Homo sapiens: one gene and its partners. The protein of the gene in region 2 interacts with the protein of the main gene of each other region in a biochemical or structural test. Each region holds a gene or a part of one and is shown on either strand. Other genes may lie near its edges. The genes, in order: CRYBA1, CRYAB and CRYGD.

What was found.
Region 1: the proteins of CRYAB (region 2) and CRYBA1 form a complex in vitro, tested with the Homo sapiens proteins (2 studies listed by BioGRID and IntAct, with this or other methods).
Region 3: the proteins of CRYAB (region 2) and CRYGD form a complex in vitro, tested with the Homo sapiens proteins (3 studies listed by BioGRID).

The regions. Positions count from the first base shown.
Region 1 is NC_000017.11:29,244,644-29,248,394, reverse strand, and holds the start of CRYBA1 (beta-crystallin A3), read right to left. Parts: upstream 1,537-3,751; 5' UTR 1,532-1,536; coding exon 1,501-1,531; intron 1-1,500. UniProt on the Homo sapiens protein: Crystallins are the dominant structural components of the vertebrate eye lens.
Region 2 is NC_000011.10:111,909,671-111,913,421, forward strand, and holds the start of CRYAB (alpha-crystallin B chain), read right to left. Parts: upstream 2,101-3,751; 5' UTR 2,055-2,100; coding exon 1,854-2,054; intron 1,084-1,853; exon of another isoform or gene 780-1,083; coding exon 657-779; intron 1-656. Other genes in the region: HSPB2 (heat shock protein beta-2), read left to right, coding at 3,160-3,253. UniProt on the Homo sapiens protein: May contribute to the transparency and refractive index of the lens. Has chaperone-like activity, preventing aggregation of various proteins under a wide range of stress conditions.
Region 3 is NC_000002.12:208,122,375-208,126,125, forward strand, and holds the start of CRYGD (gamma-crystallin D), read right to left. Parts: upstream 2,151-3,751; 5' UTR 2,100-2,150; coding exon 2,091-2,099; intron 1,981-2,090; coding exon 1,738-1,980; intron 1-1,737. UniProt on the Homo sapiens protein: Crystallins are the dominant structural components of the vertebrate eye lens.

The DNA of each region.
Region 1 (3,751 bases), on a different chromosome or scaffold from region 2:
AGACTCCATCTCAAAAAAAAAAAAAAGAAAAAAAACAAGGATCAGAAACAATAATGCAGGTAAAGCACTGAGACCCTGTCCTCTCACTTGCTTTCAGGTGACAGCATTACCTCTGTCTGCAATATAAACTCTTTGGCAACCACCTAGGCCAGACCCCTCATGTGACTGGCCAAACAGCCAGCCATGCCAGGATCCCAAGCCCCAGACTCCCTCGTAACCCTTCACGGTCTCATCCTTATCTGGCCTCTTTCTGCTTTTCTTTTTCTTTTTTTTTTTTTGAGATAGAGTTTCACTCTTGTTGCCCAGGCTGGAGTGCAATGGCGCAATCTCGGCTCACCGCAACCTCCGCCTCCCAGGTTCAAGCGATTCTCCTGTCTCAGCCTCCCTAGTAGCTGGGATTACAGGCATGTGCCACCACGCCCGGCTAATTTTGTATTTTTAGTAGAGACGGGGTTTCTCCCTGTTGGTCAGGCTGGTCTTGAACTCCCGACCTCAGGTGATCTGCCCGCCTTGGCCTCCCAAAGTGCTGCGATTACAGGCATGAGCCACGGCGCCTGGCCATTCCTTTCTGCTTTTCTATCTCCTAGATCCTACCCAGCCTTGACCTTGCCTTCTCAGAGGCTTTCCTGCCTTCTCCAGCCCACAGCCACTTGCTTGCTTTCTTGATTTATAGCACTCATCACAGTACCAATCTGTGTTCTGGTTGGATGTCCTGGTGAGCACCTCAATGGCAAGGCCTCGGTCTTCTAGGGGATTGGTATAGCATCGTGCTGAGCACATGTGGAGATGAGGGATCAGGGGGACATTGAAAAAGACTTATTGAAGGAAAGTGAAGAAGAAAAGAGTTATAATACTTACACTCAAAAATGGCTATCTACATGTCCGGCCCTGTTTTAAATGCTTTACATGCATTCATGCATTTAATCTTCACATACAGACTATGAATTAAGAATTATCATTATCCCCATTTTACAGATGAGGATACTGAGGCTCAAAGAGGTTAGGTAGACAGTGAAGATGGTAGGACGAGTTTTAAAAAAGGAAGGACAGAGCAAGAAAGAGGAAGGAAAAGTGGGGGAGGAAGGGAAGAAGGAAGACAGGCAGGTGTGTATTAGGTTTCTTAGGACAGATATTCATGGCCCTCCTCCTGGCTGGTATTGGGCCCAGGAATGATGCATGTCAACTCTGTAATATATTTTTCCATTCTGAATCTCTGAATAAGCAACATTTCCCAGGTCCTGCTCCCATACCTTCTCCCTGCTCGTTTCTTGGGGGCCCATGCCCATCCCCCAGCCTTAGTTGCTAGGGCAGTGGTTATTGCTATATAAGTGACTCCTCTTGGGGTGACAAGAGAAGGCTGTCTTCCGCCAGAGTTCCCCACTCTTCTCCAGCCACCCTAGAAGGCTCTACACACTAGGCAGGAGAACTGGGCCCTCTCCTGGGCATGTCTCTGCAGGGCAAGGAGAGGAAGGGCAAGGGCACCCTGAGGGCCTTACTCACCCAGCTCCTGCTGCTCAGCCTGGGTCTCCATCTGGTACCACTTGCTCTGTGGCCCTCCTCTTTATAGCCCTGCGGCCTCTGGCCTCTGGCCCTGTCAGCACTCTGCTCTCCCTCTGCCTTTGTTCCTCATGATCCCCAGAGCTTTGGTGGCTCAGCTTGCTGGGGCCTTTGTTTAAACCAGGGATACAGAAATCCAGAGAGGCCCCTCTGTTGTGGGCATGGCTGGCTGCTGCAGGCCTTGGCTTTCTTAATCTCTCAGAGCAGCTAGGGGGTGAGGACAGAAGTCTCTGCCATGAGTACTTGTCTCTTGTCCTTCTCCAGGTTCCTCACACCACCTTGGGATCTTCCTAAGACCTTAAGACCCTGGGAGACCCCATGTCATATCAAACACATCAAAATGCACCTCACTTCCATACAGATGTGCATTTCTTGTTGTTTAAAAATGTGAAAGAATTATTGTAATTCTGAACTCAATATGAGAAAAAATGGTTCATTGTATTCTTGGGAATCTTTATTATGCTGTATTTATATATAACTATGTAAGGGTTGACTTCAATTATAGTTGACTAGCAGACATGTGTCTCTCTGTAGCTATTTTATTAAATATTCCTTTTAATTTTGCAATTTTCTTTAAAAATTTTGGAGCTATAACTTTTGGGTTTTTTAAAAAAGAATTAAACCATTTATTGAATAATTCCTATATATTAGACATGTGCTAAATGCTTTACTTAAAAAGTTTGAATTAAATACTTTTCCACAACAAAAGAAAGAAATACTTTTTCACAGCCACCACAACAGTGCTATTTTCACCTCCATTTTCCAGATTAAGAAACTAAGAGAACAATCAGGTGACTTGCCTAAGGTCACAGTATTTATAATGGCAGAGCCAAGACTCGAATCCAGTTCTAACCAACACCAAAGTCACTGCCCTGCACTGGCCCTCCCTCAGGAGTAATGCATAAATGGCCCAAAAAATTCCAGGAGAGGAAAGAGACCCCCCTGGCTAGAACTGCAGTTCTGAATATAAACACTGAGCATATAATGGATGTAACTTATCTGTTTCAAAAGGGGAAGGAGCCTAGAAATGAAGCAATTTTTCCTCCTCAAATGATCTTGGCTGCCTGTCCCTTTGTCTTCCATGTTAATTCCTTTCACCATTCTGCTCCCAAACAGGCCAGGTCCCACATCAGTTCCAGGAGGAAAGGGCTCTTTCAGCCTGCGGGTCATCGTTGGGCAGCAGTAGGAAGGGGAAGAAGGCAACCTTCTGAATACCTCCTTTGGACTCACCATCTAGATGTAAAGGGTTCACCTGCTCCATCTCAGATTCCCGGGGGCCTTCCTGTGAAGTTGTCTAGGCAAGCGGTGATAGGGACCTAGATGTCCTTGCTTCTCCCCTCTAGCTCACCCAGGCCAGGGGCGAGAATTCCTGCCACCCACACCTTCAAAACCAATTTTTTTTTTCTTTTTGAGACAGAGTGTCGCTCTGTTGCTTAGGCTGGAGTGCAGTGGTGCGATCTTGCCTCACTGCAACCTCTGCCCCCCAGGTTCAGGTGATTCTCCTGCCTCAGTCTCCTGAGTAGCTGGGATTACAGACACCTGCCACCATGCCCGGCTAATTTTTTTGTATTTTTAGTAGAGATAGGGTTTCACCATGTTGGCCAGGCTGGTCTTGAACTCCTGACCTCAAGTGATCTGCCTGCCTCGGCCTCCCAAAGTGCTGAGATTACAGGCGTGAGCCACTGTGCCCGGCCAATTTTGACGTTTTACTGAATTGTTTTAGGTCTTTGGAAATCTCACAGGCCCAAGTTACTATGCGTATAGTACCTTAAAGTGTAAAATGACTTCTCCCAGAAACTTCAGGACACTTGATGAAGGTAAGGTAGGGGAATCGTGGGCCTCCGCAGGGGCCCTGAAGGGGAAGATGTGTTCTGCAAGCATCACAGATATTGTGAGAAGCAAGAGGCTGCAATGGATGTGGAAGGCTTTGAGCCAGGCAGATGTGGGTTCAAATCCCAGTTTCCTGGCTGGGAGATTTGAAGCAAGTCACTCAGACTCTCTCAACCTCAAAAATAGAATATCTGCCTGATACATTGTAGGCTTATGACTCCTTACCCTACTCTCTTTCCAATGAAAGATACTATTGAAAATTTCGCTGGGCACGGTGGCTCACGCCTGTAATCCCAGCACTTTAGGAGGCTGAGGCGGGCGGATCACAAGGTCAGGAGATCGAAACCATCCTGGCTAACACGGT
Region 2 (3,751 bases):
GCTGTAGGGGATTAAAGACTGAGCACAGCTCTGAAATTTAGACAAACCAAGTAGTTCAGCATTAAGATGGGCTAAAGAAGAGACACGGATTCTTGCACAGCTAAAAGAGAAGTCACAACTCAAGTGCTTTTAGGGTACCTGTAGTTAATGTAATTATGCAAAGCAACTAGGTGTCTGACAGCCCTATACCTAATCAGTGGTTCTCAACCTTGACTGTAGATTAGAATTACCTTAAAAATTGCTGATGCCTGGGTCCCACCCTTAAAAATGCTGATTTAATTGGTCTGGAGTAGTGCTCGCTTCGGCAGCACATATGCTAATTGGTCTGGAGTATGCCCGAGCATTAGGTTTTTTGAAAGTTCCCCTGGTGATTCTAATGTGGCCCAGATTCAGAACCACTGGCTTAAATGGGGCATCAGCATCCCATCATCCCATCTAAGGCGATCAAATCAAAGGCCACATCTCTGGCCATAATAGTAACAACAGCAATATGTCTATCCTAACTTAGTCTTCTAGACATTGATTTGTAACCCCTGATCCCGACTGTTATGGCTTGGGACTGGAATGTAGCCAGCCTCCAAAGCTGATAGCACTACCTGGACTATTACAGTATGCACTGAATGAATGAGCAGAAAACAAAAAAACAAGCTACATACCTGGCGCTCTTCATGTTTTCCATGCACCTCAATCACATCTCCCAACACCTTAACTTTGAGTTCCTCTGGGGAGAAGTGCTTCACATCCAGGTTGACAGAGAACCTGTCCTTCTCCAGGCGCATCTAGAAATAGCAAGGTAAGGGAATGGGATGGGAGAAAGAGGGCAAAAATACTGATTACACAGGTGCTGTCTTATTCTGCAGAGCTGCTTTCTGTCCGGGTAATTCATCCTTCTCTTCTCTGCTTAAAAAATCTCCTTTTTAAATAAACATAGCTGTCTGCTTCAGGGAGCCACCACAGTGATACCTAAGGCTCATGGTGATCAGACCCAAACTTTATTTACAGGGACAGAGAAGAAGACAGATCACCCAGGGGACCAGTCGCAAGGATGGGTGCAAGCCTGGCATCTGCTGCCTCTCTGACTCCAATGCCTGGCTTTGTGGTTTGTCTGTGAGACAAAGGCCTCTTCTTCTGGCTCAGGTCTCTTTGCCAGTTTTCCACCCACCCAATCTGGAATGTTCTGCTGGTCCTGCTTGTCCTTCCAAAGCCCTTGCCCACTCAGCTCCTGTTTACTCACACTTGAATATTTTTAAACCAGAGTGTTATCTGTGACAGCTCTGTCAACCTTATTTGTTCACCCTGTTCTTCCACCCTCTTAGGACAAATGGGCGTCCCTATATTGTTTCCTCGTAGGGCTTGATTGGACCCAGGCCAGCGCCCTGTCGTAGCCCTGAGAAACCCAGAAAATCATAGAAGAGGGAATAGAAAGGCAGAAAATACCCATGGGGATGAACAGCTCAGGATGAGGCAGGGCTCTCTCCTGGCTCTGAAACCTGAGATGGTAAAATCGGTCAAGAGTCCAAGGTGTTGGAAGAGATAAGCAAAGGAGTTTGAAGGCAGCTCTTTCCCTGCAGATTGTCATGAACCAAACCAGAAAGGGGTATCCTGTAGAGAAGTTAGGGGACGGAGGATAAACTTGACAGTGCATGAAAAAATGTAATAAATGGGATACAGAGGACTATCAAATAGAAACAGGTGATGGGGGAGGAAGGCACTAGCAACCTCCTCATTTTTCTTCACATTTGGACACACATGTGCCTAAAATGGTTTAGGCAGGGTAGGAAAGGAAAATGGATGGAGAAGTTTCCAGGAGGTTCCAGTAAGGACTCTCCCGTCCTAGCTGTGGGGAGACTCACCTCTGAGAGTCCAGTGTCAAACCAGCTGGGTGCCCGCAGGAAGGAGGGTGGCCGAAGGTAGAAGGGACTCAGGGAAGTAGACGTCGGGAAAAGATCAGACTCCAACAGGTGCTCTCCGAAGAACTGGTCAAAGAGGCGGCTGGGGGAGTGGAAAGGAAAGAAGGGGCGGCGGATCCAGGGGTGGTGGATGGCGATGTCCATGGTGGCTAGGTGAGTGTGAGGGGTCAGCTGGCTGGTCAGCTCCTTCAGCTGCAGCTACAGCCAGCCCCTTATATATGCAGTCTTGTGAAGCTTCTGGAATGGTGATGTCAGGGGTTTTATTATCCTAGCTCACCAGCAGTTCATGGAGACTTGTGATCCGGGATTTGGCAATGTGACACATACCCAGTACTCACTGAGCTAAGAAAAGAGAGACACAAACACGTCTGAGCCGGCCAGTGACTTGTCATGGTCTTGTTTCACTAGCTTTCTGTCCACACCCAATGGCACCCACCCCCACCCCTGTTCTCTGAAGCTGGTACAGAGTCAGGAATCCCAAGCAGGCACGCGGGGTGGGGGGAGGATGGGAGCCGGCGTAGTGTGCCCCTCCTCCTCCTTTCCAGTCCTGAATGCCAGGGGAATCAGGCCAGCAACTATCTTGGGCCTGGGCAGGGACTGGAATCTTCCTAGGCTGAGCCCCAGGGACATTAACTCTTTGTGAGTCCTTGGAAGAGAGCAGTGATGGTCAACATGTCAGCACCAGCCATCTGCCTCGTGCCCTGGGTTGACCTGGGTTTAGGAGAGGATCCCACATCTGGGCAGAAAGACCCCACCCCCTGAAAAAAGAGCAAACAGATTTCTTGCATCTTTCGTTCTATGTGGCTCTCAGAACATTAAATCCAGGAGTGCTTTAGGAATTGGGTGCACAGTGCCTGCCACCGAAGAGGAGAAAATGAGGTGTGGAAACGTGCAAACCGTTTGTGAGGGTCTCAGCGAGGCCTCTTCATGCCCCAGGCACCACCAGCTCCCCCTCCCCAGCTCGTTCCCAGCCAGGACCCTCAGCTGTCCTCTCAGGCCCCCTGCGACAGCTGAAGAGTGTGCGGGGGAGGGGACTAGGGGTCCGGGCGGCGCTGGTCACACCCTCGTTGCTCTCACTCAGGGCCCCCACTCCCAGCCCCTCCCCCCCCAAGAGGCTCGGCACTATTTTGGGTGGTGTCGACCCCGCCCCCACCTCCTATCGAGCCCTGGCTCTCCGGGCAGCTGGAGGGGTCGCGCTGCGCCTGTTGGGGCTGCACCTCGGACCAGGGCTTCTGCTGCATCTGCAGCCATGTCGGGCCGCTCAGTGCCACATGCCCACCCGGCCACCGCCGAGTACGAATTTGCCAACCCGAGCCGCCTGGGTGAGCAGCGCTTCGGAGAAGGTATGGCACAGACACCACCCCCTTGCCCCCCACCCCCACCCCCTGAAATTCTGGGCTGACCTCCCAACGTTGCTGGCCTCCACCCCACTCTGGGCTTAACTGATCTCCTGGGACCAGCCACCCCCCACCCCAGACTACCCCTCATCCCCTCCAAGCAGAGATCTTTCCCATTCCTGCTGACCTCAAGACACACTTGGTGCTTGCAGTGCTGATACCTGCTCTTTGCCGGCCTGGGTGTGCCTCCTTGTCCCCCTTCTATCCACCCAGGCCGTTTGGTGCCTCCTCCTCCTCCCCCTCCTCCTCCTTCTCCTCCTCCTCCTCCCTTTCCTTTCCGTTCTCTTTCCCCTCTTCCGAGCTGCCTTCTCCTCCTAGCTACAGTGTGGCCTCCCTCCCGTTCCCTACTCCTCCTGACTCCCCTCTTGCTCTTCCCAATCCCTCCTCTCCAGATTTCCCATTTCGCCCCTGTGCCAGCCTCATCCTCCCTCATCCTGCCTCTTG
Region 3 (3,751 bases), on a different chromosome or scaffold from region 2:
TTAATTATATACTATATTTAAAATATATTATAAAATGTATAAAATTATATTTTATTTAAAGTTAATCATATTTTATTTTAATAATTATATTCAAATTATATTTTATAAGTATAAATTAAAATTATATTTATTTTACAAATTATATTTTATTTTAAAATAACTTTACTAAAATATAAATAAAATATATTTAAAATACAGAAATATAAGGGGTGGGGCAGTGGCTCATGCCTGTAGTCCCAGCACCCTGGGAAGCCGAGGCAGGTGGATCACTTGAGGTCAGGAGTTCAAGACCAGCCTGACGAATATGGCGAAACCTTGTCTATACTAAAAATACAAAAATTAGCCAGGTGTGGTGGCGGGTGCCTGTAATCCCAGCTACTTGGGAAGAAAATTGCTAGGGCCCAGGAAGCAGAGGTTGCAGTGTGCCGAGATCATGCCACTGCACTCCAGCGTGGGGAACAGAGCAAGACTTCGTCAAAAAAAATAATAATAATAAATAATAAAATAAAATAAAATAAAAATAAAAATACAAAAATTAGCTGGGTGTGGTGGCGTGCTCCTGTAACTCCAGCTACTCAGGAGACTGAGAGACGAGAATCATTTGAATCCAGGAGGCGGAGGTTGCAGTGAGCCGAGATTGCACCACTGCACTCCAGCCTGGGCGTCAGAGTGAGACTCTGTTTCAAAAAACAAAAACAAAACAACAACAACAAAAATATATATATACACACATATAATGTAAATGAAATATATTAAAAATATATTAAAATATATTTAAAATATGTTAAATATATTTAAAATATAATATAATTTATGTAGTTATATAAATATATTAAATACATATTTATTAAATAAATATATTATTAAATACATTATATTCATTAAATATATTTAATGTAAATATATTTAAAATATAAAAATATGTATTTTAAATATAAGTATTTAAAATATATTAAATATATCATTTAATATATTGAATTAAATGATAATGCATCATTTAAATCAATGACATAAATAAAATATGTTAAATATATAAGCCTTCTATTCAAAATATAAGTGTTTTAAATATATTAAAATATAAATATTTAAAATATATTAAAATATAAAATGTTAAATATCTTCATATATTAAAGAACAATTAATTCTAAGTCAATAACTTGTGAATGCAATGAAGAAAAATGGAGGAAGAAACATCAGTAAGTCCAAGGACGAATTTTGCATAAACTTTAGTGTTCTAACACACATATGGGATAAAAGGGACACATGTGTAAAATATGTGTGTTGCTCTCCTTTGAAGGAAAGTCTTACTTATATAGGTTGGGAAAACCCAAAATATGCAAGAGAGGAGCAAAAACGGGAAAAAGTCTCAAAAGAAATTACCCTGTTTGCTCAGTAACTGCTGTACGCTCTAGCATTTATTCTTCTATTGGGTATTAGTGGTTTTTCTACAACTCCATTCTAAATGATTCCAGAATAGGACTTAAGTCTTATACAACCCCTAGGGCAGGAGACACATTCCTACTCAATACATATTTGTGGATTAATTGTGATTAACTGGTGTCTGGGTAATACTTTGCTTATGTGGGGAGCAAACTCTATTGACTTAATCCACTATAGTTCATCTTTTGTCCACTCTCAGTTATTGTGACTGATCACTACTTCTAATGTTTAACTTTTGCTTGAAACCATCCAGTGAGTGTCCTGAGGGCCTGGGTCCTGACTTGAGGATGTACTCACGTGGGGGATGAGGCGGCAGGAGCGGACCGAGTCGCTGAGGCCCATCCACTGCTGGTGGTCGGCATAGTCGCCGCGGCGCAGGAAGTACTGGAGGCCCGAGTAGTTGGGCTGCTCATAGAGCATCCAGCAGCCGCTGTCCACGCGCGCCGAGTTGCAGCGGCTCAAGTAGGGCTGCAGGTTGGGGTGGTCGCTGCTGCATTCATAGTGGCGGCCCTGGAAGCCCCGGTCCTCGTAGAGGGTGATCTGCAAGGCAAGGCGGGACAAGGCGAGGTCTCACAGGCCTGCTCCTGCCCCAGTCTCTGGCCCCCGCGATGGAGGAAGCTCCGGGGTCCCGGGGCGCAGGCTGGGCTCACCTTCCCCATGGCTGGCTGGGCGCACGGCGGTGCTGAGCTGGTGGGGCGGCGGCGCTGAGCGGGTGGGGCTGCGGCGCGGCGGGCTATATAGCAGGAGGGCTGCTGCGTTGGCAAGAACCGCACAAAAGGGGCCCCCGGAGGGGAGCAAGGGCATTTTCGTGTTCTCTTTTTTTCTCTTTGCTGTGCTAGACCACGGGGCTTGTTGTGGGTTTTGGTCGCATTCTCTCTGGAGTATTCGGATTGCTATCACTGGCTGATGCTATTGAGAATGTTTGTAAAACGGCAATTTGGGACATTGTCTATTTATAATGGAAGTGGAGCTTCAGCTATTTCACATATAGTTCACGCTTTTATTCGTATAGATTGGGGAAAAACAAAAAAAATTTAAGTCGGGGAGCAAAAAAAGCAACGACTCTTAATAAGGCAAATATAAATTAATCTGTCAGAACTACAGTATTACTTACGTGCCACAATATTGAATACTGATTGTTAATAGGAAGGAAATGGGCTTAACTGAATGTTGAAAATTTCAAGTTAGTCCTTTAAGAGAACGTCATCATGAAAGGGTGTAAGAAATTGGAACATTTTATTAAGAGAGTTCACAGAATTTCGAACTTTTATTATGGTAAAACACACAGCAAACGTGAATCTTCAATATTGGGTCTGATTTTGTTGCAATTATGCCTGGAAGTAGCTGAGAATTAGATGTTTTTCTCTTAGCTAAAGGTGGTGCCGTGATTCAAAAGAGAGAATAGTTCTAAGATGCTTAATCTCAGAAAGAACTAAAAAGGGAAATATCTAAGTTTGAGGAAATTAGAAAAAGTAATATGTTTGAAACACAAAAACATGATCTCTTAGCTTGTTATAAAATAAAACCAAATTCCTAAGAAACTTATTTCTGGTAGGATCTAGAATACACCTTTGCCCTCTGAACGAGCGAGAGTACACAAGGCCTTTGACTCAGACGAAATTAATTGCATGAACACAAAGGGGAGCTATGGCTGGAATGATGCAGGGAGAGGAAGGAATAAAAATCTAGAAGTTGGACTCGAGGAAGACTTCAGAAAGTACTTATTGGCCTGGAAGAGAGCAGTTTGATGGACTGGGAAGAGTACTGGAGTGGAATATGACCTATGTGTCCAGCTTCTTTCATGTTCAAAGAATTGCTTACAGCCCTGTGTCAACCCATGGAAGTACTTTGTCTTGTCTTTGAGTCATAAATCTTTGTAAGTGGTATTTATGAATTAAACACCAACTATGTGCAATACAAATTATTTTAATTCTTATTTTCTGGCTGCTTTTTTTTTTTTGTATTCTTTCTATATAGAGCTCTACGGTGGTAGGGAAATACCTTTTTCTTTTGTTTTGTTTTGATTGTTTTCTTCATCCCCATTGCTACATATAGCAGGCGTATGGTAGGTGCTCAAAAATTGGTAAGGATCCTAACTCAAGGAAGTTAAGAGTCTCTAGTGGCTAATAATTGGAGGCTATTGAAATGGAAAATAAACTTGTGGCTGGGTGTGGTGGCTCACACCTGTAATCCCAGCACTTTCGGAGGCCAAGGTGGGAGGGTCACTTGAGCCCAGGAGTTCGAGACCAGCCCTGGCAACATAGTGAGACCCCTTCTCTACAAAAAAGTGAAAAAATTAGTCAGGCATGGT